Linked DNA regions of Homo sapiens: region 1 is linked to region 2. The links come from fine-mapping of genetic effects on gene expression. A gene starts in region 2. The other region holds a variant in brackets. All regions are shown on one strand. Distances are between the middles of the regions. Region 1 overlaps LOC105374039 (a long non-coding RNA gene). Region 2 holds the start of NECTIN3 (nectin cell adhesion molecule 3).

Region 1 (15,417 bases), 470 kb after region 2:
TCCTGTTAAAACAGGGAGGAGTTTGAGTGCCCATAGAAAATATGGTCACCCTATTCAGGGCGGTGGAAGAACACTGTCCTTGGTTTCCTAAAAAGGGAATATTAGAACTCCACAGTAGGGGGCAGGGCGGTCGATCTCTGTAGTACCAGTCCTCTAAATTTACTACCTAATTCTTTCCCTTTAATTGTCCCCACGGGGGTTATTGGCCCTTTACCTCAAGGTTCAGTGGGCCTGGTGTTAGGCAGGGCATCCACCTCTGCTGACGGTATCATAGTTCATACTGGTCTCATTAATTCTGATTCCTCTGATGAGATTAAACTTATGGTGTCTGCCAAAGTTCCTGTTTCCATTTTGGCCGGTGAGTCAATTGCTCAATTACTTTTACTACCTAATATTATTTTAAACAAAGGAGATAAGACATGGGGCCCTGCGATGGGCTCCGGCAGTGAAAAAGCTGCTTATAGGATTAATGTAATTTCTAAACAACAGCCCACCTGCACCATACACATTCAAGGAAAAAAGTTTGACGGCCTAGTAGATACTGGGGCTGATGTTTCTATTATTTCCTCTAATTTATGGCCTTCCTCCTGGCTTAAACATCCCGCTAACATGGGACTAGTAGGTGTTGGAAAAGCTGATGAATTTCACCAGAGCACATTTATCTTGCCTTGCACTGGTGCTGATGGTCAAAAGGGTACAATTCAGCCTTATATCACACCAACCCCCATTAATATTTGGGGTAGAGATTTGCTGGCGCAGTGGGGGGCTGAAATTAATATTCCATGTAACTCTTATAGTGTTCCCAGTCAACATATAATGGAAAACATGGGGTTTGTTCCCAGACTTGGTCTCGGTCCAAGACATGAAGGAATTACTAAACCTCTTCAAGTTACTGTAAAAGAAGACAGGGCTGGTTTAGGTTATCCCTTTTAATGACGGCCACTGCCATGCCTCCTAATCCTGTAACTTTGTAATGGAAATCTGAAACACCTGTTTGGATTCAGCAGTGGCTGCTCTCTAAAGAAAAACTGGAGGCTTTAACTCAATTGGTTTCTGAACAGTTATAAGTTGGAAATGTGGAACCGTCTCTTTTGTCCTGGAATTCTCCTGTGTTTCCAGTAAAAAAAAAAAAAAAAAAAAAAAAAAATTCAGGTGAGCGGAGGATGGTAACTGATTTAAGGGCCATTAATGCTGTAATTAAACCTATGGGACCTGTCCAACCCGGCGTGCCTGCCCCTGCTTTAATACCTAAAAATTGGCCTCTCATAGTGATTGACCTTAAAGACTGTTTCTTTCATATTGTTTTACATAAATCGGATTGTGAAAAATTTGCTTTTACTGTACCATTATCAATAATCAGGAGCCTGCAGCTCATTATGAATAGAAAGTACTTCCTCAGAGACAGGCTGTGGTGGAATGGGCCAATCGCACTTTCAAAACTCCATTGTCCAAACAGTCTGAGCAACAAAAGCATAATGTAACCACTCCCCACTCCCAATTACATTTAGCATTGTTTACTTTAAACTTTCTAAATGTTCCTAAAGACAATACTCTGACTGCAGCTGAACGCCATTATACAGGGAAAAAATTCTCCCTAAATGGAAGCAAGCCAGTATTATGGAAAAACTCCCAGACCAATACCTGGGAACCTGGAACAATTTTAATGTGGGGACGAGGGTATGCTTGTGTTTCACCTGGAGATCATCAATCCCCTGTCTGGGTGCCCACTAGAAGACTTAAACTTCCTGTAAATACTGACAATGAAAACCACAAGGAAAAGACATCTGCGTCAGAGACCGCCATCATACCTGGTGAGATCTGTGCCGACTCTGCAGAAACTGGCATGCCAAATCAAAATGGGTCTGGTTTAATCCTCCCTAATGGCAATGGAGACCCCTCTAACTAATCCCACTTCTCCTAATTCCCTTTCTTTTTCTCCTTATGAACCTAAAAATCTCGCCATTTCTATTAGTCTGAAAATAACAACCCTCTGTTCTTCTCTTCTTCCTTCAGCACTGGACCTTGCTTAAATTGGTTTTATTTAATAATTCTCCTCCTTATACTTTCTGTCTCACCAGTTTCCCCTCAAACTGATTTACCTGCTACACAAAATTATTCTTATTGGGCTTATGTGCCTTTTCCTCCACTTATTCGAACTTTCACCTGGATGGATGCTCCTGAGGAAATCTATACTAACGATCGTGTGTGGATGCCTGGAGCTAGAGATGACCGTTGCCCTGCTCAACCAGGAGAAGAGGGCATTGCATTTAATGTTACTATGGGTTATAAATACCGTCCTCTGTGCCTCGGACATGCACCTGGTTGTATCCATCTAGAAACTCAAGTCTGGTCTGCTTATCTTCCAGAGAGATTAGCTACAAGGGAAGGAGGACATTTGGTCTCCGGCCTCTCCCTTTCTCCTTTAAGACAAATAAAAAGGGGAGTAATAGGAGATACCCCATACTTTCAATATAAACCTGTAGGAAAACCATGTCCTAAAAATTTTGAGGGCCCATCTAAAACTTTAATTTGGGAAGACTGTGTTAACTCACATGCAGCAGTATTAAAAAAAACCCATATGGTTTAGTAATAGGCTGGGCACCAAAGGGCTATTTAAAAAACAATTACTCCTCTGGCAGAAGGGAATGCCTGGAGGGTACTTATTTTATTTCTTATTGGGAGGGCGAGGATCATCATCCTACTTTGCGTAGGAGGTTCAGCTCATTCTTTCCCTTAAAATGGGAATATAAGGGCATTACCCCCCACCTGAGGCCTCATATGATATTCCCCATTCTGAGCCCAGAACACCCAGAACATAGGAAATTGGCTATTGTCATGTCCAGACTCTGAGTATGGGAGGGGGAAACTTTTCTGTCTGTTGTCCCCACTACCGCCCCTTGCATCCGTGATTCTGAACCCCATGGTAAATCCCCTTTGAACCCTTTTCCTCTTTTTGATGCTGATCCTACTTTATGGGACTCCAATTGGCATAATAATAATTCTTCTCAACCCGGGTATACCCCTCCACCTCTTCAGCATCCCTGGGCACCTCAGATTGCTTCTTTACAGCGGAGAACATCGGGCATTGCCACCACCACTCCTCTCCCTCAGTATCGACATAGATTCAAACATTCTGCTTTGTTTACCTCCAACCTGACTATTCCTATACAGAGTTGTGTTAAGCCTCCTTACATGCTGTTAATGGGAAATATCAAAATTTGGACAAACAGTCAAACTGTCCAATGCAATAATTGTCATTTATACACTTGTGTTCATTCCCATTTTGACTTCAGGAAAAGTGTAATGTTGGTTCAAACTCAAGAAGGAATCTAGATACCAGTAACTTTACCCAGACCTTGGGAATCTTCCCCCTCAGTACATTTAATTAATGAAGTGTTACAACGAATTCTCAAAAGATCTAAGAGATTTGTTTTCACTGTAATTGCTGTGATCATGGGCCTAATTACAGTCACTGCACTGGCCACCACTGCCAGAGTGGCATTACACCAATCTATTCAAATGGCTCATTTTGCTAATGATTGGCAAGCCAGTTCCACCCAAATGTGGAATTCTCAACAAGGCATCGATCAAATATTAGCTAATCAAATTAATGATTTAAGACAGTCTGTTATTTGGCTTGGGGATCGGCTTATGAGTCTCGAACATCACATGCAAATGCAGTGCGATTAGAATACTTCTGATTTCTGTATCACACCATATTCCTACAATGAGACTGATCATTCATGGGAAATGGTCAAAGGACACCTTCTGGGTAGGGAAGATAATTTATCCTTGGACATAACTAAACTAAAGAAACAAATTTTTGAAGTCTCTCAAGCTCATTTATCCATTGTGCCTGGAGCTGAGGCGTTAGATCAGGTGGCAGAAAGTCTTTCTGGACTAAATCCCACAATTTGGATTAAGTCTATTGGGGGCTCCACTGTAGTAAATTTTGGGATTAGGTTTCCCTGTTTAATCAGCTTGTTTTTAGTGTGCCAGACCAGTCAAAGAATCCTGTGTCAAAACCAAGAGAACGAACAAGCCTTCATCACCATGGCACATTTATATAAAAAGAAAGGGAGAGAAGTTGCGAGAAGTCAGGGACCCCGAATGGAGGGAACAGCTGGAGCTGCGGCAGAGGAACATAAATTGTGAAGATTTCATGGACATTTATCAGTTCCCAAATAATACTTTTATAATTTCTTACACCTGTTTTACTTTAATCTCTTAATCCTGTTATCTTCGTAAGCTGAGGATGTACATCACCTCAGGACTACTATGATAATTGTGTTAACTGTACAAATTCATGGTAAAACATGTGTATTTGAACAATATGAAATCAGTGCACCTTGAAAAAGAACAGAATAACAGCAATTTTTAGGGAGCAAGGGAAGGCAACCATAAGGTCTGACTACCTGTGGGGTCAGGCAAAAAGAGCCATATTTTTCTTCTTGCAGAGAGCCTATAAACGGACATGCAAGTAGGGAAGATATCGCTAAATTCTTTTCCTAGCAAGGAATATTGATATTAATACCCTGGGAAAGGAATTCATTCCTGGAGGGAGGTCTATAAACGGCCACTCTGGGAATGTCTGTCCTATGTGGTTGAGATAAGGACTGAGATACGCTCTGGTCTCCTGCAGTACCCTCAGGCTTACTAGGATTGGGAAACTCCATCCTGGTAAATTTTTGATCAGACTGGTTCTCTGCTCTCGAACCCTGTTTTCTGTTAAGATGTTTATCAAGACAATATGTGCATCACTGAACATAGACCCTTATCAGAAGTTCTGCCTTTTGCCCTTTGTCCTGTTTCCTCAGAAGCAAGTGATCTTTGTTCTGCTTTTTGCCCTTTGAAGCATGTGATCTTTGTGACCTCCTCCCTGTTCATACATCCCCTCCCCTTTTGAAATCCTTAATAAAAACCTGCTGGTTTTGAGGCTCAGGTGGGCATCATGGTCCTACCGATATGTGATGTCACCCCCAGCAGCCCAGCTGTAAAATTCCTCTCTTTGTACTCTTTCTCTTTATTTCTCAGCCAGCTGACACTTACGGAAAATAGAAAGAACCTACATTTAAATATTGGGGGCAGGTTCCCCCGATATAGCTTCTGTGTAAGGCCACAGCTAGAAAGTGGCAGAGCCAAGAACCAAAGTATATCTGATATGCCTTGGATCCATGTTCTGTACAAGATTTTCTCTGTGCTGAACAGCCCAAATTAGCACAGGTTATACATGTATATACACATGTGTATATATATGTATATATATATATCTCTCTCTGTAAAGTCTTAGGTGTGATTTTCAAAAATGATTTTGGATTCTGACATGGCAAAACAAGCCCCAGTGGAGAGGATTTTGATGCCTTTCTATCAATTACTTCTACTGGGGGTATAGACAGGAAGTGTCTGGAGGCCAGGCTGGATGCTGCTTAGTCTCTGCAGCTTAGAGGTCAGTACCGAGAAACCACACCTGTTGAAAGGTTGGCTGTTGGTGCAAATCACTGAGGAGGAAGACTCCACACTGCTTGTCTCTACTGTCAAAAGAGAGGATTCAACACTGTGGGAAACTTGTGCCATCCCAGGATTGCTATGGATTCATTACTTTTTTACTTTTAGCACATGTTCCTTTTTCTCTAGCCACACTTAGATATTTTTTCTTAATTTCTGTTCTCAATATCCAGGACTTTTGGCTTTCATTTTCTGTTTAAAAATATATTCTCAAATCTTCTATGATATGATAAGATCTTGATTTAATTTCTCAATACCCACTAACCATCCACTTAGACTTCTGTCCAATTCTTGAAAAATATTACTTCTATTTTGAAAAGGTTTTCATTCTTCTAGTTTTTGTGTTTAACTTCTTACCTCATGTTTCTTATCACAGGGGCAATAGTAAGACAGAGAGCCCACACAATGGAGCATAAAACTTCTTTTGTTTAGGCATTGGGAGGATGGTTCTCCAAAAAGCCTCCTTCTGAGCTACTTAGACTATTGATGGTTCATCTCATGTGGGAGTATGTCTTAAATCAAGGCCCCTGGAAAACAGACACTGTGGTGAAATTTGCCTACAAAAGCTTTATCAAGAAGTGCTCTTGAGAACAACACCTACAAGGGAGTGAGGGAAGCAAGAGGGGATGGAAGGAGAAGCTGCCTTCCAACGAAGTTGCAACAGAAGCCTCAGCCCTTCCCACAAGACAGCTCTAGAGCTGGGATGTCCCTTTAGAGTTATCAA[GA/G]ATTGAGGCACAAAGCCAGACCTTTGTGCATCCTCCTTCATTATCCACTCATTACCAGTGGGCTGTTCCCAGGGAGAAAGCAAAAACTTAGAGAGGCAGCTTTCTTTAGATTAAGGAAATTCTTGGAAAGTGATGCAGCTATGAGCCATCAGCAGGCAACACTCCCAGCAGCAGAAAAAATTAGTGCTTCAGTCGTGAACGGGGAAATGGGACAGTGCACCACAGTATCCACTACACGCCTCCAGTTTTCTCAGTGTTGATAGCATGCTTAATTTGCTGAAAATATTTTACTTCATTATATCTTTAGTGGGATTAATGGTGACCCCTCAAGATATATGTGAAAAGCACCTGTAAATATGATCTAATTTGGAAAAAGGATTTTTGCAGATGTAATTAAATTAAGGATCTCAAGAAGAGATCCTCCTGAATTAATGGGGTGGGCCTTAAATCCAATGACTAATGTCCTTATAAGAAACAGAAGAGGAGATGACACAGGGAAAGGAGGAGAAGGCCATGAGAAGACTGAAATAACTGGAATGAAGCTCACAGCCCCAGAAGCTGGAAGAGTCAAGGAACAGTTTGTCCCCTAGAGCCTTTGGAGGAAGCATAGCCCTGCTAACACCTTGATTTTGGACCTCTAGTCTTCATATTTGTAAGAAACTGAATTTCTTTGATTTTAAGCCACCAAGTTTGTGGTAGTTTGTGACAGCAGTCCTAGAAAACTAATACAACATCTTATACCATTTAATCGTTACATAAAATTTGTATTCTTAAAACCCTCAATAGGAGGGAGAGTGGCATCGAGATACTTATATCCCTAGGTTTCTAACTGAGGGGTTGCCAAGGCTTGGCTACACATCCATGATGAAGGCCACAGTTCCTGTTGGGAGGCTCTCTCCCTGCAGCTACCCTCTCTCATGGCTGTCTCCCATTTCCCTGCAGTCATAGGAAAGAAAGTGGCTTCCCAATGTTGCTAGCCCCTAAGAACTATGCTACCCCTGGTCTCCCCTAAGCCCTACTACATCTTTATATATAGCCCCTATATTAAACTCTATTCAATTATCACTTTTGAATGTGCCTTCTGTTTTCTACTGAGACTAGACTGGCTTGTCAACTCTGGGGTAATTTAGCTCCCAGGGAGCAATGACTTCAGTCAATGCTAAGCCACTAGTGACAGCAAAAGTTGTATTGCAGCTTTTCTGAGATTTTGTAATATTATGTGCCTATATGTAAGAGACCTGGATTTTATAATACTCATTTTCCCATAGTTATAGCATTAGATCCCTTAACCCTCTGGCTTTCAAAAAAAAGAATCTTGTCATTGGTAGAGATAGGTTTGTCATCCTTATTTTTATCTATCTTAAGTACTGCTATTGAATTCCATCCCTTAGGTAACAAGAATTTCTCTATTTTCTACAGTTGATTTGAGCACTTGGAAAGCCAGTCACAAAATGTCTTAAGATTTATATTCTCTCTGGCAGGGCAAATATGGTCTGCTTTTTTATGTGCTGCTAATTTCCTTCATCTCACATACTCCACAGGAGACCTACGGGTGATAATTGGTGGCAGATCTAATGGGCTCCTTGAACTGCTCATAGCTACTCTGGGCATCCCTCTTCTTGATAACGCTGAGATAATATCATGGGAGAAGAGATATTATTTATCTTTGTCTCCTGTACAGATCAATCCTAGTGCCAGACATTTAAGTGGAGCTCAGTATTTGTTGAGACACTCAGCAAAATTAAGAATATATCTTATTTTTAGAACTCTGACTAGTTTATTTCAATTTTGTGGACCTTGTGAAATGTGTATGCTGTATTATTTCTATTGATGGGAAATGGATTTACTTACTCAAGAGTTTCATCAAAAAATATTCATATAGTGTCTATTATGTGCTCAATACCATTCTCGGGGCTAGAAATATAGCAGTGGAGTAATCAGACAGCCTTAGCATGCATTCTCCACAAAAGCACAGCCTGAGACAAGGGCCTGCCTACAGTTACTTTGGGATGTAATCGCATGGAACAGGAGTGGGGGTGAAAAAGAGTGAAACAGGGAAGGAGGGCAAGTCAATGCAAGGGTGCAATATCAAGCAGCTTACACTATGGTCCACTGTTGTCTGGGTCCCTCTGGGCACTTTCTTAGGATCTGTGTAGAACGCATCTTAGAATCTTTCACCTGAGCAACACAAGCTCCTGTTCCCCATTGATCAAAGGTTGCCCGATGAGGTGTTGACTCCCTGCACTTCCAAGGTCACGCATGTGTATGCATGGATGAGTGGAATGAGGCCTCCACCCCCACCTATCCCCCTTCCCTTGCTGAGGAGGCAGAGATGCCCAGGTCAGAAAGTAAGAGATATTTAGGGCAGCTGAGGAGAGGTGCTTTCAGGCTTACATTTGAGCAGCCTGTTGGACCCATGACAGCTGGAATGAAAAGGTGGGTGTGATATTGTGATGTAATAAGAATTATGTATTTGGTCTCTGTCCCCGGTTCCTGGCACACAACCCCTGAAACTCTTGGAACCTCTTAAGTGATAGATGTCTTTGTGTATGCTAGCAAGATGACTGATGACTGGGGCCTCTGGGATAGCCTCAGGATGGGAGGCTGGTTACCAGGGGAACCAACCATGTGATTAGAAGGTTGAAACTTTCAGCCCCACACCCTGACCTCTGAGGAGGGGAGGGGGCCTGAAGGTTGAGCTGATCACCAATGGCCAATAATTTAATCAATTATGCCTATGTAATAAAGCCTCCATGAACACAAAAGGACTGGGCTTGGGGAGCTTCCGTATTGCTGAACAGGTGGAGGTGCTGGGAGAGAAGAGCACCTGGAGACGGCGCAGAAGCCCTGCACCCTTCCACATACCTTGCCTTATGCATCTTTTCCATCTGCTGGTCATCTTCATCTTTTATAACATTATTTACATGGGTAAACATAAGTGAACTGTTTCCCTGAGTTCCGTGAGCCACCCTAGCAAATTAGTTGAACCTGAGAAGGGGGTCATGGGAACCCTGAATTATAGCCAGTCAATCAGGAGCACAGGTCACAAGCTGGGACTTGTAACTGACATCTGAAGTGAGAGACAGTCTTTTGGGACTAAGCCCTCAATCTGTGAGATCTGACACTATATCTGGGTAGATATGTGTCAGAATAAAATTATAGGACATCCAGTTGGTGTCGACTAGAAAACTGAAAAACTGCTTGGTGTGTGAGGGAAAACCGCCAGACAGCTGGTGTCAGAAGTGAAGTGCTGAGTGACTGCAAGGGAGTAGGAAAACCACGTTGATCTTTTCCTAACTTTAATGGTGGGTTGCAAAAATGTTTGGTGAGTCAAGAAGTGACTAATACATAAAGCTCCTGTCCTTCCCAGGCAAACGCTCTAGTGGAAAGTGACAATATACCAAAAAAACAAATAAATAAATAATCAACTTAATGTCTCATGCAAATAAGCCCTGTGAAAAAAACACAGTTGTTGCTGTGACAGAGGCCCATGACAGGGCTCCTTTAGATAGCCATGAAATTCAGGAAAGGCCTCTTTGAGGTGAGGACATTTGAACAACCACAGAATGAGAGAAAATATTCATGTATGTAGCCTGTGGAAGAGTTTTCCAAGCAGGGCAAATGCAAAGGCCCCGAGGTTGGAAGGACACAGAGAGCTTGAGGGACAGAAAGGAAAGAGTAGGAGGGTTGTGATACGTGAAGGAGCATGGGGTGAAGGAGGGAGGAGAGGTAGCCAGGAGCTCGTGGGGCCTTTAGGGCCATTAGCTGTGGTCAAGCATGCGTATGCCCTAGAGACATAAGAAAAGGGGAACTTGGACATTTACAGAGTTGATATTTGAAGTGTTCATCTCTCACAGGTAACTGTCATGGTCCCTGACACATTGTTCTTTGATATTTTATTTTACCAAGTGATACATCTGAATTATGTGTGCTGTGAATCACTCTGCAGGAGAGTGAGCCTAGTTAACAGCCAACACCCAAATTTCGACCTCATTTTGTGGACTTTTATTCATGATCATGTAAGTAGTAACACTCATGATCTGATTAATGTTCATTTCTGTATGAAAAAAAAGGTCAAGATAAAGCCAACCACTTCAATACTTTAAATATACATAACTATGACTTCAGGATGCATTTCCCACTGTTGGGCACCAGGTCTTGATTTATAAAATAAGGGAGTTGATTCTCCTGAGTTTCTATGGGTCTACATGGCTAAAGTGTGAAACTGATAAAATACTATTAATTCCAAGTAGATTCTAACTTTCTCTGAAGCAATAAGACATACTATTATTTTAGAAAAAAAGAGCTTTGAGGATCTTCAGCTTGCTTAAAAGAAACCTCCACACGGAGCGTTTTCTATAGTTTTTCTCCATCCTCCTCTAGCACCCCTGGAAATGTGGCCTTCCTCACTATGTGCTGGGTTATTAGAGAAGCTTCCCCATTAAGTTACAGTCATGTATATTGGAGATAGAGGAGAGGCTCAAAAGAGAAAGAGAGTTTGGAGATGTAAATATGAGACCCATAGTATCTTCCCTGAGCAAAACCAAAGGGAATAATAAATGGCTAAAGAACAGTGAAAATAAAGTAAAATTGATGCTGAGTTATATAACACTGGAATGAAGCTAATTCAATACCTTTAATTAAAAAATAGCATGCTTGGTTTCACCCAGAGTCAGTCAGAATTTCTCCAGGAAATTAAATTTAAAAGCAAGCAAGAGAACAAACAAAAACTTCTCAAAAATATATATATATAATTGTTTGAGATAAAAATCTATTTATTGTGTGTGTATGTATAGTTGAATATATATAAATCCTTATTTTTTCCTCTGTGACATACAGGTGTAGTTTTGTCAATAGAAATGTCATGGGAATGAAAAAAAATGTACGCTTTTTGGATTGCTTCTTATTTGTCAAGATATTAGAGGCAATTTGCATTTTAAATTGAAGAATAATTGGTTTTTATTATTGAATATGTTATGAAGCTCAATGTATTAATGGTGTAAAAGACTCATCGTAACTAGCACAGGATTTTTTATAAGAGACACTTTGATCTTGGGCAGGACATTTTACCTCTTCGGGTGTCATTTATTTCATCTGTAAAATAAAGGGCTCAGTCTATGCTAAATGACCAATACAGTTTCTTCTAACTCCAACATTCTGTAGGTTTTGGTAGGAAATAGAAAACCTATGTGTGCAAGCATGCTCATGCCTCTGCTTTTAACACTTTCACAAAACAGGCAAATCTTTACAAAGTTAGACTTCTTTTCTGAAGGAGAGAGCATATTTTTATGCACAACTGTCTTCTTGTTTGTTATGATTACTTTCTGGGGACTGTGGTTCAGAACAAAGTCCCTGGTCTCTGTAAGATCTCCAATCTTGAAATAAAATTATATTCATGATAAGGTTTTCATTGAGCCAGAAATGTGAAACAATGCATTTTTAAAAGATGTTCACCAACAAGGACTAATTTCTATCCTACTTACTTCTCCTCCCCAGTACTACCCCTCCTCTTCCAAGAAAAGAATTTGGTTTGGCTCTCATTTGCCCAGGAAATGCTATTAATCGCAATCTCCTATTCCCTGATAACATTACTTAATTGAGGTTTTATTGAGCTATACCATTACTCAAAGCAACAAATACAAAAGTGTGCTTTCTGTCCTCTCTCTGTCTCTCTGTCTCTCTGTCTCTCTCTCTCTCTCTCTCTGTCTCCCTCCCTCTCTTGCACTTCTGCATGCCCTATTTCTTTCACTCTTGTCCTCAAATGCAGGACTCCATTTAAAAGGAAATTACTGGGGGAAATAACAGGGAACAGAGGGGTGATTCAGTCCTTGGTTGACCTTACCTAGTCTATTGTTTTCACCAAGTACAGAAACACGACAGTTTCTATGTGAACTATAGTTGTAAAAATACAATGTGATTAAGAATATTATTGTAGCAGTCTATCAAAGAACCACAGTATATGATTTTGCTCCACACTATCTATTTTTAAGCTATAAAATCAATTGCAACCCTTCTCATTTTTCAAGGTGTTCTTTCTTTCTTCATTGACTATGAAGAGACATTTTAATAAATTTTAATGTTTTGAAGCCAGGTAGAATGTAGAACTTAAAATATTTCTTCTAATTCTGGCTATGCTAACTTAACCTTGGAAATATTAATGGTTTCTTCAATGTATTTCTGAAAAAATCAACATTTTGATTACTGAGTTATTAAATTGCCAGGGCTTTGGCAATTTCAAAATATCTCTGTCTCTGTCTCTTTCTCCATCTCTCTCTCTCTCTCCTTGTTTCAGTTTGCTACTCAAAATAAATATTCAAAGATTACTTATTATAATTATCTAATTGAATTATATAATTTTATTTCTGAAAGTAAAATGCCAGGTGGAAATTTTATATATATCTTACCTAAAATTATTTTTTGTACATCTATAAAATGAATTTTTAACATGCATGTGGTAAAAATTCATTTTCTTTATATGTACATGTTTATGAAGAAATCTAGACAAATATACACCATATAGGTCTTGGTAGTCTTTGGGCAGTTAGAATTCTTTCTTATCCATTTAAATTTTCTTTCTTATCCATTTAAAATGGTTTCATGTAATGAGCAGATATTGATGTTGTAACTGAAAAAGAAGTATTAAACTAAAATTAGTCTTTCATGGATGGAATTCGGCATGGTGAAAATGGTGATAAAACAGATTGCTATGCTGAAAGTCTCATGAAATTCTTTTTCATTACATGCTAACTCATAAAACTCATAAAATTTGAGTGAAAACCAAAAGAACTCTACTCTGATGAAGGCAGGACTGCTAGCTGTGCCATAATAGGTTATCTTTCACATCCATCAAAAATCTATTGATCATTTAATAACTGCTCCTTGATTAGGGTGGTTCTTCCAGCAAGAATCCAACTCTGTTTGTTTTCCCTTTTTCCTAATTCTGAGGCATGAAACTTTATAGGATATTTTGATTCCATGCCCAATCGTACATCTCACCTTACAGCCTCTTTATTGGTAATGACCTTGCTTTCATCATGCTTCGCCATGCCAGTCAGCCCATTCTCATCCTAAAGTGCCCAAAGAAACATAAACTCCTAACAAGTCTTCTGTTTCTCTGTTCTCCTTTCTTCCATTCATTTCACACACGCCCACCCAATTTATCCTTTTAAAATGTTACTTTAAATATATGACTCATATGCTGAAATATCTTTAGGGAGTCTCTCTGACATGAGGAAAAAACCCACACCCTTTAGCCTAGAATTCAAAGCTCTTGGACAGCTTTGTCTGCTCCAAGTCCCCTAATACAGCCTCTGCTAAACCGGAATAGCCCACTCACTAAATGGCCTTGAACTTCAACACTGTCAAGTGTTGGCTCTTCCTGTTTCTTCTGCCTGGAATGACTTAGCTTGCGGTTTCTACCAGTCTGACGCCTATAGGGCCAAGTTTAGATTCCATACTTCATATGCTCTTGGCCCACTCTACCCCTAAGATAACTCCCCCTTTGCTAAAATCCTGCCCTACCTTCTCATTTGGGCTGTGCTTTATGCTGCTTGACTTTTTTGGTGCACATGGATGCTTCCTCCCAGCTAAATGGTAACTGCCTTAAAACTGAGGGTTGTGTTTTATCTTTGGTATTTTAAAATTATCTAGAACTATGCCTCTTCAGTAATCTCTTAAGAATTGACATACAGCAAGTATTTTTTAATTAACTGAAACCTTAACCATCATGTTTTCTAAGCATTTTGGAAAACATGCAAAAGTATAGCACTCCCATTTTTATTTTTAGTAAGTGTTTAAAGATAAGTAAGTAATATTTGAGTTAACCATTATGAAAACCACAAAAGTAAGTTTACCTTTTGCTCAACTTCCTGTTTCTGAAAATGTCCTTTTCTCACTGAGTGTGTTTAGCTAGAGCATTTAAAAAGTTTGTCCAAAACACACAATCATGGCTTGCCTTTAGCAGAAATAATGTGTGTTCCTGCTTCTCTTTGTAAATAATTGAATTTGCCTCTGCAGTTCAAGAAGATCACGATTTCTTTTTGTGTGTGAAACTGACTTGCTTCTGTTTTCTCCTTATGTGCAGCAGACTATAAGGCAGAAGAAACCCTGTGCAATCGGGATATGGTGGGTAGGGAGGATAATAGAAGAGATTGACATGACTTCCATAGAAGAGTTATTTTTAAGTATAGAGAACGCCTGTCTATCCCCATGCTGAAAGAGCCTTTAGAAAATATTACCAGGATTGAAAGGCGGTGGGGGCAATTCCCATCACCTGGGATAGCCGTGCCAGTCTGCGGAGTGTTGCTGCCACCTGCTGCATGCAAACAGCCATGGAGGGGCTGTTGCCTGGGTCTTGCAGCTGCAGGACACCCGAAGTGTAAGCGTTCAGTTAATATTCTGTGGCCATGCATCTGAAATTGTTATACTTTCAGAACCTGTGTGGATCCCAAAGAAAAATTAATCAAATCTGATGGCTTCAGGCCATAGAAGTTTCTAGATATAAGAATCATTAACTAAGCCCTGAACAATACACAGAAGACAGATTTGCCGTATAGCCACTAAATGCATGGCTCAGGTAGCCCAACCCCAATGAGAGGCAAGAATTCTACTGAAAGTAAGTCTGTAGCACTGGAAAATAAACGACCATTTCCATGTTTCTGAGTTTACAGACTTTTTTGGAACAACTGTTTCACTTTAATACAATAAAAGATAGGAGAAGTCTAAATACCCCAAAGAGGGTATTGTTCTTAGAGAATTCAATAAATGTATATTTGAATTGGTTTCTACTTAGGTAAATTCCTCTTAATATGAAAAATGGAACGAGATCATAGAATCCCTTCTCCAGGCTTGTAATGTGTCCTGATTTAATAGGGACACCAACGTGCAAATCAGGATCTTCATAGTGCATCTCCAGGACTATTTTTGCTGCTATGCTTCATAAAACTTTGATTTACTAGAATTTCCAGGGGCAATGGGAAGAGATGAAGCTACCCAGAGCAGTTATGTCTCTTCCTGACCTTCTATAAAGGACTTTGAGTTCCCAGGCCTTCCCTGGAAAATCACTGTCAGTACTACCTGACCCAATATCCCCAGTGACCTGAAACTCATGGGAAGTTGGGAAGGGGTGATAATAAAGGTTTGGGGAGCACTGGACTAGGCAAGCAGTAACTACATCTAAATTCTGCAA
Region 2 (14,451 bases):
AAAATTTCAGGCCACTATCCCTGATGAACATCTATGTGATAATACTCAATAAAATTCTGGCAAACCGAAACCAGCAGCACATTATAAAGCTTATCCACCACAATCAAGTTGGCTTCATCCCTGGGATGCAAGGCTGGTTCAACATAGGCAAATCAATATACAGAATCCATCATAAATAGAACCAATGACAAAAACCACATGATTATCTCAATAGATGCAGAAAAGGCCTTGGATAAAATTCAACACTCTTCATGCTAAAAACACTCAATAAACTAGGTAATGATGGACTGTACCTCAAAATAATAAGAACTATTTATGACAAACTCACAGCCAATATCATACCGAATAGGCAAAAGCTGGAAGCATTCCCTTTGAAAACCGGCAGAAGACAAGGATGCCCTCTCTCACCACTTGTATTCAACAAAGATTGAAAGATCTGGCCAGGATAATCAGGCAAGAGAAAGAAATCAAGAGTATTCAAACAGGAAGAGAGGAAGTCAATTTGTCTCTGTTTGCAGATGACATGATTGTATATTTAGAAAACCTCATCATCTCAGCCCAAAAACTCCTTAAGCTAATAAGCAACTTCAGCAAAATCTCAGGATACAAAATCAACGTGCAAAAATCACAAGCATTCATATACAGCAATAATAGACAGAGAGCCAAATCATGAGTGAACTCCCATTAACAACTGCTACAAAGAGAATAAAATACCTAGGAATACAACTTACAAGGGATATGAGGGACCTCTTCTAGGAGAACTACAAACCACTGCTCAAGGAAGTAAGAGAGGACACAAACAAATGGGAAAACATTCCATGCTCATGGGTAGGAAGAATCAATATAATGAAAATGGCCATACTGCCCAAAGTAATTTATACATTCAATGCTATTCCCATCAAGCTACCATTGACTTTCTTCACAGAATTAGAAAAAACTACTTTAAATTTCATACGAAATCCAAAAAGAGCCCATATACCCAAGACAATCTTAAGCAAAAAGAACAAAGCTGGAGTCATCATGCTACCTGGCTTCAAACTACACTACAAGGCTACAGTAACCAAAAGAGCATGGTACTGGTACCAAAACAGATATACAGGCCAATGGAACAGAATAGAGGCCTCAGAAATAACACCACACATCTACAACCATCTGATCTTTGACAAACGTGACAAAAACAAGCAATGGGGAAAGGATTCCCTATTTAATAAATGGTGTTGGGAAAACTGGCTAGCCGTATGCAGAAAACTGAAACTGGACTCCTTCCTTACACCATACACAAAAATTAACTCACGATGGGTTAAAGATTTAAATGTAAGACCTAAAACCATAAAAATCCTCGAAGAAAACTTAGGCAATACCATTCAGGACACAGGCATGGGCAAAGACTTCATGAATAAAACACCAAAAGCAATTGCAACAAAAGCCAAAATTGACAAATGGGATCTAATTAAACTAAACAGCTTCTGCACAGTAATAGAAACCATCATCAGATTGAACAGGCAACCTACAGAATGGGAGAAAAATTTTGCAATATATTCATCTGACAAAGGGCTAATATCATGAATCTACTAGGAACGTAAACAAATTGAAAAGAAAAACAAAGAAGCCCATCAAAAAGTGGGTGAAGGATATGAGCAGACACTTTTCAAAAGAAGACATTTATGCAGCCAATAAACATGTGAAAACAAGCTCATCATCACTGGTCATTAGAGAAATGAACATCAAAACCACAATGAGATACCATCTCATGCCTGTTAGAATAGCGATCATTAAAATGTCAGGAAACAACAGATGCTGGAGAGGATGTGGAGAACTAGGACCACTTTTACACTCTTGGTGGGAGTGTAAATTTGTTTAACTGTTGTGGAAAACAGTGTGGTGATTCCTCAAGGATCTAGAACTAGAAATACCATTTGACCCAGCAATCCCATTACTGGGTATACGCCCCAAAAATTATAAATCATTCTACTACAAAGACACATGCACATGTATGTTTATTGCAGCACTATTCACAATAGCAAAGACTTGGAACCAAGCCAAATGCCCATCAATGATAGACTGGATAAACAAACTGTAGCACATACACACCATAAAATACTATGCAGCCATAAAAAAGAATGAGTTCATGTCCTCTGCAGGGACATGGATGAAGCTGGAAACCATCATTCTCAGCAAACTAACATAGGAACAGAAAACCGAACACTGCATGTTCTCACTCATAAGTGGGAGCTGAACAATGAGAACATATGGGCACAGGCAGGGGAACATCAAACACTGGGGCCTGACATGTTATGGGGGGCCAGGGGAAGGATAGCATTAGGAGAAATACCTAATGTAGATGACAGGTTGATGGGTGCAGCAAACCACCATGGCACGTGTAACCATGTTACCTATGTAACCTATGTAACCAACGTGCACGTTCTGTACGTGTATTAAACTTAAAGTGTAATAATAAAAATAAATAAACTGAGTTTTATGTTAAGGTTCTTGAGTGTTGGTCAAAGAAGTTAAGGTAAGGGGATTGGGGGATGGATTGGTTTTCTACTGCTGCTATAACATTACCACAGATCCAATGGCTTACAACACAAATTTATTATCTTATAGTTCTGTTGGTTAGGAGTCTAACACAGATATCACTGGCCGAAATCAAGGTATGGGCAGGGTTGTATTCCTTTCTGGAGGCTCTAAGGGGAAGATGTGTCTTTACTAGTTTTTTTTTTTTTTGAGATGGAGTCTTCGTCTGTTGTCCAGGCTGAGGTGCAATGGCGAGATCTCAGCTCACTGCAACCTCAAACTCCCAGGCTCAAGTGATCTTTCTACCTCAGCCTCCAGAGTAGCTGGGACCACAGGTGTGCACCACCATGTTCACCTACTTTTTAAAATTTTTTGTAGAGACGGGGTCTTGTTATGTTGCCCAGGCTGGTCTCAAACTCCTGGACTCCCACTCTGACCTTCCGACATGCTAAGATTACAGATAGGAGGCACTGCGCCCAGCCTGCCTTTTCAATCTTCTAGATATTGCCATATTACTTGCTTCACTGTTCCCTTCCTCTATCTTCAAAGCCAGTAACCTGTGTCTTACTGACCATTCTTCTGTGGTCACATCTCTTTTACTCTTGTCTTCTACCTTCCTCTGACTTTTAAGGACCCTTGTGATTACATTGTGCCCAACTGGATAATCCAGGATAATCTCCCTATTTTTAAGGTCAGCTGATTGGTAATCTTAATTCTATCTGCAAACTTAATCCCCTTTTGCCATATATTGTTCACAGGTTTGGGGGATTAAAATGTAGACCTCTTGGGGAGTGTTATTCAGGAGGTAAACTGCAGAGGTTTGTAAACAAAAAAGAATGATGCTGAATTAACACAATCTGGTTAATGTAAGTCAGAGTTTATCAGAATTGGTTTTGAGATTTCAATTGGATTGTTGGCAACATGAGCCTAATCAAAATTCCACTCCCGGGCTGCTATGATTGATATGCAATTTCTAAACGTATGTTTAAAATACTAATACAGCTTGGGTAACATAGTGAGACCCCCCCCCCATCTCTACAAAAATTAAAAATCAGCAGGTATGGTGGTACATGCTGCTAGTCCCAGCTACTTGGGAAGCTGAAGTGGGAGGATCATTTGAGTTGGGGAAGTCGAGGCTGCAGTGAGCTATGATGGTGTCACTGCACTCCAGCCTGGGTGACAGAGCAAGACCCTGTTTCAGAAGTATAATAAAATACTAATATTAATATTACTGATAATAAAACTACTACCACACCTAACATTTCTTGGGCTTTATATATTAGGCCCCTTTTAAACTAATTATATGAACTAACTTTCTCCTGAAATATGGTGAGGAAGAAATAACCATTTTCCCTATTTTCACATGAGGAAAGTAAGATAGTAACTTGCCCAGGGTTACAAGATGAGGATTTGAACTGAAACCCAGGCAATGCGGATCCAGGGGTTTTACCATTACATTATACTCCTTCTGTGTGTCTCTCTGGGTTGGGGGGCATGGCGCGTCTGATGAATATCCGCTTTGGGTTAGATATGAAAGGGTACAAGTTAGAAACAATGCTTTAGGTGATTAATTAGGGCAGGATCTTTTGAAATACCCATGGGGGAAGAAGTGGCTTTTTACTGTACTGAACCTACACAGACACCAGACTTCTTTAGTTCAGTTCAATCTAAATACAACAGCAAAACCATCTACTCTTTTCTTTTCCCTCTCTTCCTCTCTTCAACAAATATTTTTTGGTTATTGACAATGTTAAAATAAACTGCACTGGACATTACATAAAGCTGGTTAACTCAGACATGAGACTCCAAGGAACAATATTTAGCGGAAGTAAATGATAAAATCTGCCCTAAAATTTTGCTCAATAATTTGTAAAATCATCAATTGCATTATTGTAAACCTTTGTCATTTGGTTTTTCCACCCCTATTTTCTTCTCTATGTTCTGTCTTCTAGTATCTCTCTGCCTCTACCCATATTTTCATTACCTTCTTTGAGTGCTTTTTTTTCATCACTTTGCTCTCATGCCTTTTGTTTTTTGTTTCTCTCAGTTGTCTAGATTATTACCTCCTAGCTAGCCACACCATATATTCAACCCACTCTGGAAATAAACTATTTTATTTTAAAATACTAAAATTCCCCTGAATTCATTTTCTCCTTTCCATCTGCTTTACCACTTTATTTCATCCATGAATGAAAGTTCCGACCTTCATTCACTCTGCTCCTTACAACAAGTTTTTTTTTACTAAACTCGTACTTATAATTCTCCCAAATCCCCCGACAATATATCCGTCTTCACATTTTTCTCTGACTTTTCCAGCAAATCTAATCTTGTCATTCCCCTACTCAAAATTCATTTGTCCTTATGATCGACCAGATAAAAATCCAAAGCCCCTTACAAGGTACAAGCAATCCCTACCTACCCATCTAACTTCATTTTTACCTTATCTCCCAATTCCCCTTTGTGTGGTACTCTCTAGCAGCACAGGCATGCTTGTGGGTTACAGAACACATCGTACTTGGTCATGCCTCTGTAACTTTCCATCTATCATTCTCCTATTCCCTCTGCTGCTTTTCCTCCATCCATATGTAAAATTTCTAGTCATTCTTTAAGACTGTTCAAATATTATCTGTGCTGTGAAGGATTCCCAGTCTCTTTTAGGCAGACCTGAGAGTCCTCCTCTGCTCTCTCACATACTGTACATCCCTCCAATGTTTGCAAGAATATTGTTATTACTATTTGGAGTCAGGACTTGGGGTTTTCTATGTCCAGTACCTAACACAGACTCCAGTATATAGTAGTTTAATCATCTTTATTAAAGCTACCTACCCTATTATTTAACCTACCTACCATAATGATATAGTATAGCTCTTCTTTCTGCCTGCATATCAGTTTCTCGAACTATATTTTTTGGAACACCAGCACCTCTACAGGAGTTGTATACTATGAATAGAGTTAACCTTTAGATAGTTATGTAAAACGTAAGTTTGTTTTCATTGTAAGTTTAAAAGTCCAAATAATCTTTTCTCAAATAATTTTTAAAATTTCATCTGTTTGTACTGATACATAATAGATGTACATATTTTGGGGGGGTACATGTGACAACACATTCATGTAATTTGTAAAGATAAAATCAGTATAATTGGGATATCCATCACTTTAAATATTTGTTTTTTCTTTCTGCTAGAAACAGTTGAATTATTCTCTTCTAGCTATTTTGAAATACCTAATAGATTATAGTAAACTATAGTCACCCTAGTGACCTATCAAACACAAGGTCTTCTTTTTTCTATCAAATTGTATATTCCTTTCGTTTTTAATTTCATAATTCTCAAGTGCTAAGTTCATAAAAAAATCACCTAAACCATCTAAAAATGAGAAATTTATGTTTGTTTTACCATGACCTGGATGAGGAGCAACAACAAAAATACATAGCATATGTATATATTGCTGAAATGACAACATAATTACCTCCAAATTTACTTATTTCCAACCCATCTCTGCTAACCTGGATTACTGCCAATGAAAGAATAAATTTTGTTCATTTGCCTTGTTTTTATTTACATTAATTGATGGAGTTATGTTGGCTCTGTGATTTTAAGAAGCTCATCTTAGAAAAAAGTAACTGTTACAAGAGAAGATTTTGGGAAATAGTCACTGAAAAATAAGTTGAGGTCCAATCAGGAATACAGAAACTATACTATGTAACCAAGGGAATATTATGAAAATGTTACACAGGGATGGGGGGATGGTTCTCTAGATCAAAAAGGGAAGCACTGTGGTGACCTAGAGATATAAGCTGTGGGAAGCTGTTACTACCCTTAGAACTAGAAGGACAAAGGGGAAGGTTTGTGTTATTAGAACTCAGAAGTTTAGAGGAGCCATCCTCCTTAGCTGGGGCTTGGACCTCTGAGAAGTAGAAACAGCCTAGTTGGTGCTGGTACTTTTGAGGAGTCATGAGGACTCTGGGACTTAGAGTGTAAAAGAAGTGGGAGGCTGGAATCAGCTGCTAAAGACAGGATGACAGGTTATTACCACTGAGGTGATGCTGATAGCAAGAAGCAAATGGAAAGGAACAAGTCCCTTTTCTCTTACTCCAGGGGTCCACATTTCCTCCAGTGACCTCTATTGATAGAACCCGTCAGGAAGCCAGTCGGTAAAGGAGATACACAGTTTGCAGAGTCCTAGCACCAGCCTTACAAAACCAGGGCAGAACTATGAATACAGAGTGGAGAGATAATAGTTTAATAAACAGCACTAATAACAATTATATCAAGAGTGTTAAGCAATGGTCAGAGTAACCACCTTCCAGCTTAAAAAAACTATACATGATCAATCCTATTGTTCAAGACCTTAAAGAAGTATAAACCTCTACTGAATGAGACATGCACTTGAGTATGCTATGTCATAATAATCATTTAATCATCCAGTTTGGAATCTATATGGCAGACATTATTCTAGGTACTTGGGGTTTTTGTTTTGTTTTGTTCTGGTTTTGGTTTTTTTTGGGGGACAGGGTCTTTCTCCAGCTGCCTAGGCTAGAGTACAGGGATGCAATCTTGGCTCACTGCAGCCTCGACCTCCTGGGCTCAGCTGATTCTCGTACCTCAGCCTTCAAAGTAGCTGGGACTACAAGAGCACATCACTACACCCGGCTAATTTTTTTTTTTTTGTATTTATAGGAGAAAGGAGGTTTTGCTATTGATATGGTTTGGCTGTGTACCCACCCAAATCTCATCTTTAATTGTAGCTCCCACAATTCCCACGTGTTGTGGAAGGGACCTAGTGGAAGGTGATCGAATCATGGGGGCAGGTCTTTCCTGTGCTGTTCTCCTGATAGTGAATAAGTCTCATGAGATCTGATGGTTTTATAAAGGGGAGTTTTCCTGGACATGTTCTCTTGCCTGCCACCACTTTGCTCCTCCTTGCCTTCTTCCATGATTAAGGCCTCCCAAGCCATGTGGAACTGTGAGTCAATTAAACCTCTTTCCTTTATAAATTACACAATCTCAAGTATGTCGTTATTAGCAGCATGAGAACAGACTAACACAGCCATGTTGCCAGGCTCGTCTTGAACTCCTGGACCCAAGCAATCTGCCAGCCTTGGCCTCCCAAAGTGGTGGGATTTCAGGCAGGAGGCACTGTGCCTGGCCTACTTGAGTTTTAACAGTGAAAATATAGATACTTGCTTGCCCTTGTGGACTGTTCATTCTAGTGAAAGGGAACAGACAGTAAATTAGAGACATGTCAGATGGTAAGGGCAATGGAGAAAATAAAGCAAGTTAAGGGCATAGGGATTAGGGTGGGGGAAGCTCTTTCATATGATGTGGTCCTGGAGAGCCTCAATGATAAAGTTAAATTTTATCAAAGATTCAAAGGAAATAGGAGGGAGAAAGTCATATGAGCATACAGGGAAGATCTGTTCAGTAAGAAAGACTTGCATTTAATAAGAGTAAGGTTGGTGAACGTTTTGCAAGTGGATGGACTTTTCTGCGATTTTGCAGTTTGTTTTTTATTATTTGCATAATTCTCTTTACAAAAACTGTGATCCTAACTGGATAACATAAGCTTATTATCAAATATAGTACAAAGTTCAAATATTCTACAAAATATCATTCATCTCTTTTACTAAAGGAAAAGCTATGCGTCCTCACACAGCAGGTTATAGAATTTGCTGATGTTAAGAAGAATTAGCTGAAGTATATAATGTCTTACCTCTCCTGTAAAATACCTCCTTTGTTTCAGAGTCAGCTATGAAATTCTAATAATAGTCTCAAACTTTTCACTTGGATTATTTGAGTAAATGTAAAATGCCCAGCACTGTACATAATTACTTCTTTGTTAAGATGTCAACCTTTGTTTTTTAGTTAAGAGTTAATGAACCTTGATAATTGGCAAACAATCTTTGAGCCGAAAGTAGGATGGACACCATCAGTACTCTTAACCCAAAACAATGAAACTATTGTTGGCATTAGGATTACATTGCTTTCTGTTCAGATAATTTTTTTCTGAAAAAATGCATGTATACTTTGTTATTCAATGGTGTCAGAAATATTAATAAGTTAGCTATAATTAAGTATTCCTTAAACAGTTTGTTATTCAAACAATAAATGTGAACTTATGTATAAAGTTAGAAGACTAAAAATGGCATAGAACGCACTAATACTCTCATGCTAAAGGTTTTAAAAAAATTAATAGTATTTCTGCCCTTGAAAAACATGAGTTGTATATGTAATGTAAAATCTTTTTCTGTGGCCAGTAAAAATTTCCAACAGGAAAGCTTGGGGTGAGTATGTCTAAAATTCACTCATCTGAGGAGAATGTAATTTAAGATTGGGCACTTTTATTATAGAAAGTAGAAATTTGAGTTATCTTACTTTTTAACTTAAAGAATCATCTTGAGAGATCAATGGTGTCCACTGGAAGGCAAGAACTTGGTTCTGGCAGGAAAACCACCACTGGCTGGTAGTATTTGCAGAGCACTTAACCTCTGTGCCTAGGTTCTTGTAGCTGTCAAGTAGATAATAGTAATTGCTACCTTCCGTGGGAAGTGAGCTTGTGCTTTGACATCTTTAGTTGAAGATGCTGTATAAACACAAATTATTATTATTAGAATATAATACATATATGCACATAAAACACCAGCATGGTGCTCTTTTAATGCTTATATAACATCTATAAATAATGCTCTTCCATGCTCTCTCTTCACTTTAGGTCAGAGAATATCATAGCAGACCACTATTCAATTTCTGTAAGTATGGAGGAAATATATTTGTTAAAGCTCCATGTCATCTTTTTGAGACGAACTTAACCTGCTAATTCCTTATGGTCTCTGTAGCAATTGCCCGATGGCCCCTACCCAAGTTAAGCCTTTGGTATTTTTTGAAATGTTGGCTAAATTACTTTTCTTGGAGATGTGGAGCCATCAGGGAAAACCTGGAAGAATGAAATTGGCTAGTGATATTAAAATTTTGGTTGTTTAACATTTAACTGAGTCTCAACAACGTGTTAAAGTGCTATCTAAACAGATAATTAGCTAGTGGCTGCGCAGTGAGCTGTCTAAATTTAGCAGTGAAATTAGGTTTAGGGAATGCGAATATAGAAAAAGAAATTTTCTCAAGGGAAACGGTGGTGTCAGCACAGCTGAGGAATGTCACAATAGCTACATTTTGTCAATTATGATCATCATCAGGGGATCTCCCGGAGCGATGCAGGACAAGGTTTATTCATAAGTGCATCTTGAGAATAGGTGATAGAAAGCCTTGGCTGCAGGAGACAAGCTTACAGGGGACGACAGAGGCAGACAGGCACAGGGAGGGAGGGAAGAGGAAAGGGCTGGAGGGAAAAAGGCACTAGACCGAGCGCTGGGAGACTGGAAGGGAGGCAGAAGTTAAGAAAGAAAAAAGAGGTGGGCAGGGTGTAGAATGGCTTGTAGCCTTGGAGGTTAGTAAAGCCTTGTAATCCAGCGGGCGGAAGGTGGGAAGACCCTATTGACTGAAAGCCGAGGACAGCGTGGTCTTGGCCGCAAGCATGCATTAGTTTAGCTGCGACAGGCTAACTTCTGGGCGGCTGATCCTTGTTCAGCTTTCCTGTTACTGGAACACATTTATGGCTATCTCGTGGAGATGACAGGACCTACATAAAATTAATAGTGTCAGGCCTGAGGACTGGTGTCCTCTGCCTTCAATTCACCCCCTACGCTGGACAGTCCAAATTGTCCACCCTCCTACTCCCCCCGCGGAACCAATGTGGCAGTGGCTCCAAGGTCAAGCTGCCGGTACTGTGCGAGGCGGGAGGATGGAGAGGGCAGGGCGGAGAGCCACCTGGGATGAGCGAGGGTCATGGTGGACCACAGACGCTCTTCTTATACGGGCAAATGTTTAATACTTCCCGAGGTCGCCTCTCTGCCATCAAACGAAAACAGGCAAGAAAATAAAACTACACATACGAACATGCAAAGGAAACAAAACCAAAGAAAAACACCAACGCACTCGTTGGGGGAAATCCATGGCCTCCTGTTGCCAGTCGCCCGGCGCGGAAAGTGGACAGCCCAGCGGCCAGTGAGAAGCAAGAGCAAGAAAGCAAACCTTCTGAAGACCCCTCTCCTCGCCCAGCTCCGCCGACCATTCTACCAAGCTGCCCTCCCAGAAAAAAGAGCAGGAAAAATGCCTGTGCAAACGTGCCTTGGCGAGCGGGGAATAAGTGGGCTGGGAAGAAGGGAAGGATTCGGAGAGCACAGCTGTCCCGGGGAACAGGAAGGAGGAGAAAGTCTCTCCCTCCCTTCAGTGCCCCGCGCCCCAGCGAGGAGGAAGATTACTAGTCCAGCAGGCTGCGTCCAGCTTCCTACACAGGAACCTTTAGCATGGGCAACGGAAGGGCAGCCCCCTCCTGCCTTCCCCTCCCCACCCCACCCCCTCGTCCCAGGTCCCCGCCACAGGGAGAGCGCCGCCCGGGAGAGGAGAAGGCCGAGCGTGATTGTCCCGCAGCCCTCGCCTCAGTCGGCGCCGGGGCCCCCGTGGACCCGCGAGGGGTGGAGTGGGCGAGACCATTGGAAAGGCAGGGAAGGGGGGAAACCAGGCAGGAACGAGGGGCGGGGCCGACTAACCTATTCCAGATTTTCCTGTCCCTTTTAAATCTCTGCTGTGGGAGAAACCCCGTTATCAAAGTGGATGAAAAGAATATTTTTTTTTGAAAGGGGAGGAGCATGTGTAGGAGGGCGGGGTGGGAGGAGACAGGGCTTGCGCCCGGGGATCAGACGGGAGGTGGAGTTGCGCGGGGAGGGCGGGCGAGTCGGGCGCCCGCTCTGAGAGTCGGTTTCTTTTCCCCCTCTTGCGTGGGGCGGGGTGGTGCGTTCCGAGTTCCCAGGAGTTCGACGCGGGCGGGTGCCGAGGGGAGGGGAGTGGCGGCGGCGGCGGGCGGCTCCCGCTTCAGCCTCGGCAGTGGCGTCGGCGACGGCGGTGTCGAGGCAGCCGCCAGCGTTCGGCCAAGTGTCAGCCGGCAGCGACGGCGCTAGAGCTGGGAGCTGGGGACGCGCGCGCCGGACCTTCCACAGCCTCCGCCCAGAGCCTGAGGCGCCGGGGCCGGGGGAGCCGGGGGGCGGGCGGGCGAGCGGGCCGGGGGGAGGGTGGGGGATGGCGCGGACCCTGCGGCCGTCCCCGCTGTGTCCTGGAGGCGGCAAAGCACAACTTTCCTCCGCTTCTCTCCTCGGAGCCGGGCTCCTGCTGCAGCCCCCGACGCCACCTCCGCTGCTGCTGCTGCTCTTCCCGCTGCTGCTCTTCTCCAGGCTCTGTGGTAGGTGAACCTCGGCGGCCGGCGTGGGCTGAGGGAGCCGCCACTGAGGGTGCGGGCGCCGCGGCCGGCTCTGCCAGCCGTTCTCTGGAGCAGCGAGGCGGTTGGTTGTGCGAGCGAGTGCCGAGGACTTTGGCTGGAAACTTTTCGCCGCGCCCGGGGCGAGGCCCTGGAAGGGCCAGGCCAGCGAATGCTGAGCCGGCGGCCCGCTGCCCTCCCCCGCGGCCGCGCGGGTCGCCGTGCGGATGGCCGAGGGTTGGCGATGGTGCTTCGTGCGCCGAACTCCGGGTTTGCTCCGGGGACCGTTACTTCCTCGCTCATTCTCTGGGAACCCTCGTAGGTTAAGGTGCCGGGATGCACGTTTGCCGCTTTTTTTCCCGGTGAAACTTGAGCTGTGAGCCCAGAAACCCTAGGGACCGGAGCCCGATGGAATGAAGCCTCCGGGTCCACTTCTCATGGCCTTCCACCCTGGAGAAGGCACCATTTTAGCCCACCCAGCCGCAGAATCCCCTACAGCTAGTTTTCTTCTGTCTTGTGCCCACTCCCCCGGCTCTGCCCTGACAGCTTCTGGAGCTCTCTAGATTGACCCTCGTCCCTGCCCTCCAGCTTGTGGGACGTCTCTCACACTGCCCGTGCTTATTTTACCAAACCGCAGGAACAAGATTTACGTGTTAAATACCTGATTTCATGGACTGTGTGCCCCGGCTGTTCTAACCAAAACAGTCACGCGCCTGTTTCCCATCTCTTGACCCTCGTGTTATGTTACTGTTTTCCTGTCATATTTGGGAGTTAGTCTCTGAGTTTTCTTCCCAGGTATGCCAGACTAGAAGCCTGCTTATTAAGGACTGTGCTAAAAAAAAAAAAAAAAAAAAAGTCTGCCTCATGCAAGAGAAATGGACTTAAGTGGTAATTAATGGGAGGCAGCGATTTGGGAAAATAAGGACACCAGTCTTTGGTGGGAGGAGGAGTATCAGAACACTGCGAGTAGTTATTTATTTGAGGGCTCTTGGTAAGAAAAGTAGAGGGGCAGAACTTAAGCTTGGTCAAAGATTGGTTTTCAGTATTTCATAAAACCGTAAACTGAAGTTTTACTAGTATTTATTAAAAGGAGAGATGTGTGCACATTTCTTGAATAGTGTGATTTAGAAGGAGGAGAATCCTGTTACATGGTAGGTGAGTCAGGGTAGTTGGTTATGAGGGAAGCAAAGTTTGCATGATGGGATTGAGTGTCTCTTCTGGGCTGAGAATTTCCACTGACAGTTTACCACCACGTTTCCAGCACTGTAATGAAATCTGATTTACACAGAGTATAGTATGGTAAATGGAATGTTATTAATTGTACGCTGTTTCTGTATGCCGACTCCGCAGATACTTGGTTCCAAGACAAAGTTCTTAATGCTATACCTTTTTAAATTGATGCCAGAGTCTAGATTGAATTTGTGTGCTGTTCTATTCCATGAAGGAGAATTGGGGATGTTGCTTACAGTTGAGTGAGAGGACAGTTGGAGGGGACCTTACCAGTTTACTATCCTGACTTCGTTTATGTTAAGGACTGAGAGAATATTTATACCTCCACAGAGGCAGATCTAGTTAGGCAAAGCTCTGTGGAAGACTGAAGCCAGGTAATATGCATAGCTGATGCAGGAATTATTTACATGATAATTTCTTAGTGGTTGTGAAAATGAATTGTTGATTACTTTTTGAAGGAACACATTGGTTTTCACATGGAAGAAGAAAACAGTTTTAAAAAATCTCAATGTAGCATTGGAAGGACTTGATTTTTAATTCAGAGCTTAAAAACTTAAGCAGTGTAGGCAAATGGACTGTGTTTTAGAGCAGGTGTAGTGTTTAGAGTCAACTCTTCTTGTTGTAGAGGTAGACACTGGTTTTGTATTCCTGTGTGCTACTCATTTAAACAGCTTCCTTTTTTGGCTTATAGTGTTATAACACCCTAATTTGTGAACCTTTATGACGAGTTTTTTCCATCAACCTTTATTTTGGAATTAAGTCTTTGAATAGGGCACAGATGTTGTGACTTATGGAAGCTTAGTGGTATGGAAGCAAAATTTTCTTCAAGTAAGCTGTTAGTCTAACAAGTTGTTGATTTAACTACTGTTTTAGTTAATAGAGTTATAATGATGTTCATAGTACTGCTTACAAGGTTTGGCATGTAATTAATATTTGCGTGGAGCCAGTTTTAGAGTTGAAAAGATTTTTAAGCTTTAAAAATATGACTGTAGCTGATGATTTGTTGATGAGAATGCTTTACTTGTTTTATGACATATAGATTTTTCCTTTTGCTGCTATTTTTGATATTTTGATATGTTTGATATATAGCGTGGCCTTAACTTTATCGTGTTAATTTAACTGTTAAAAATATCCATCAAAACTGGTGGACCTGATATTCTGAAGGCTATAAAAATGTTTATATCAGACTTGCTGGCCGTTTGTTTTGGGGGTGTGCATTATCTTATTTGGAGAACTGAACTTTTAAAATGAGAGTTTTACAGGTTGTCAAATTGCCAGATTTTTTTTTTGTTTTTAAGCCTAAGAGATTCCTAGGTATAAGTGTCAAGGGGACTGGGCTTACGTCATCATCTGACTTGATAAACGTCATTTAATTATGAAATTCGAAGTTTCTTTATGATG

What was found.
Region 1: its variant is fine-mapped to the expression of NECTIN3 in whole blood (TOPMed, PIP 0.97).

Annotation. Positions count from the first base shown.
Region 1 is chr3:111,525,365-111,540,781 of GRCh38, forward strand. All of the region lies in intron 2 of LOC105374039 (a long non-coding RNA gene), which reads left to right. Among named protein-coding and RNA genes, the nearest start is that of CD96, 9.1 kb to the right of the region's middle. The variant GA/G (reference allele first, on the strand shown) is at 6,230.
Region 2 is chr3:111,060,373-111,074,823 of GRCh38, forward strand. NECTIN3 (nectin cell adhesion molecule 3) reads left to right here and starts at 11,444. Exons shown (of 6, transcript NM_015480.3): 1 at 11,444-11,805. The coding sequence starts at 11,646. It overlaps NECTIN3-AS1 (NECTIN3 antisense RNA 1), which reads right to left and starts at 9,587. Exons shown (of 4, transcript NR_045114.1): 1 at 9,418-9,587; 2 at 8,892-9,099. LOC151760 (putative uncharacterized protein LOC151760) reads right to left here and starts at 11,394. Exons shown (of 4, transcript XR_007096272.1): 1 at 11,120-11,394; 2 at 8,892-9,099. RefSeq lists a silencer at 11,172-11,271.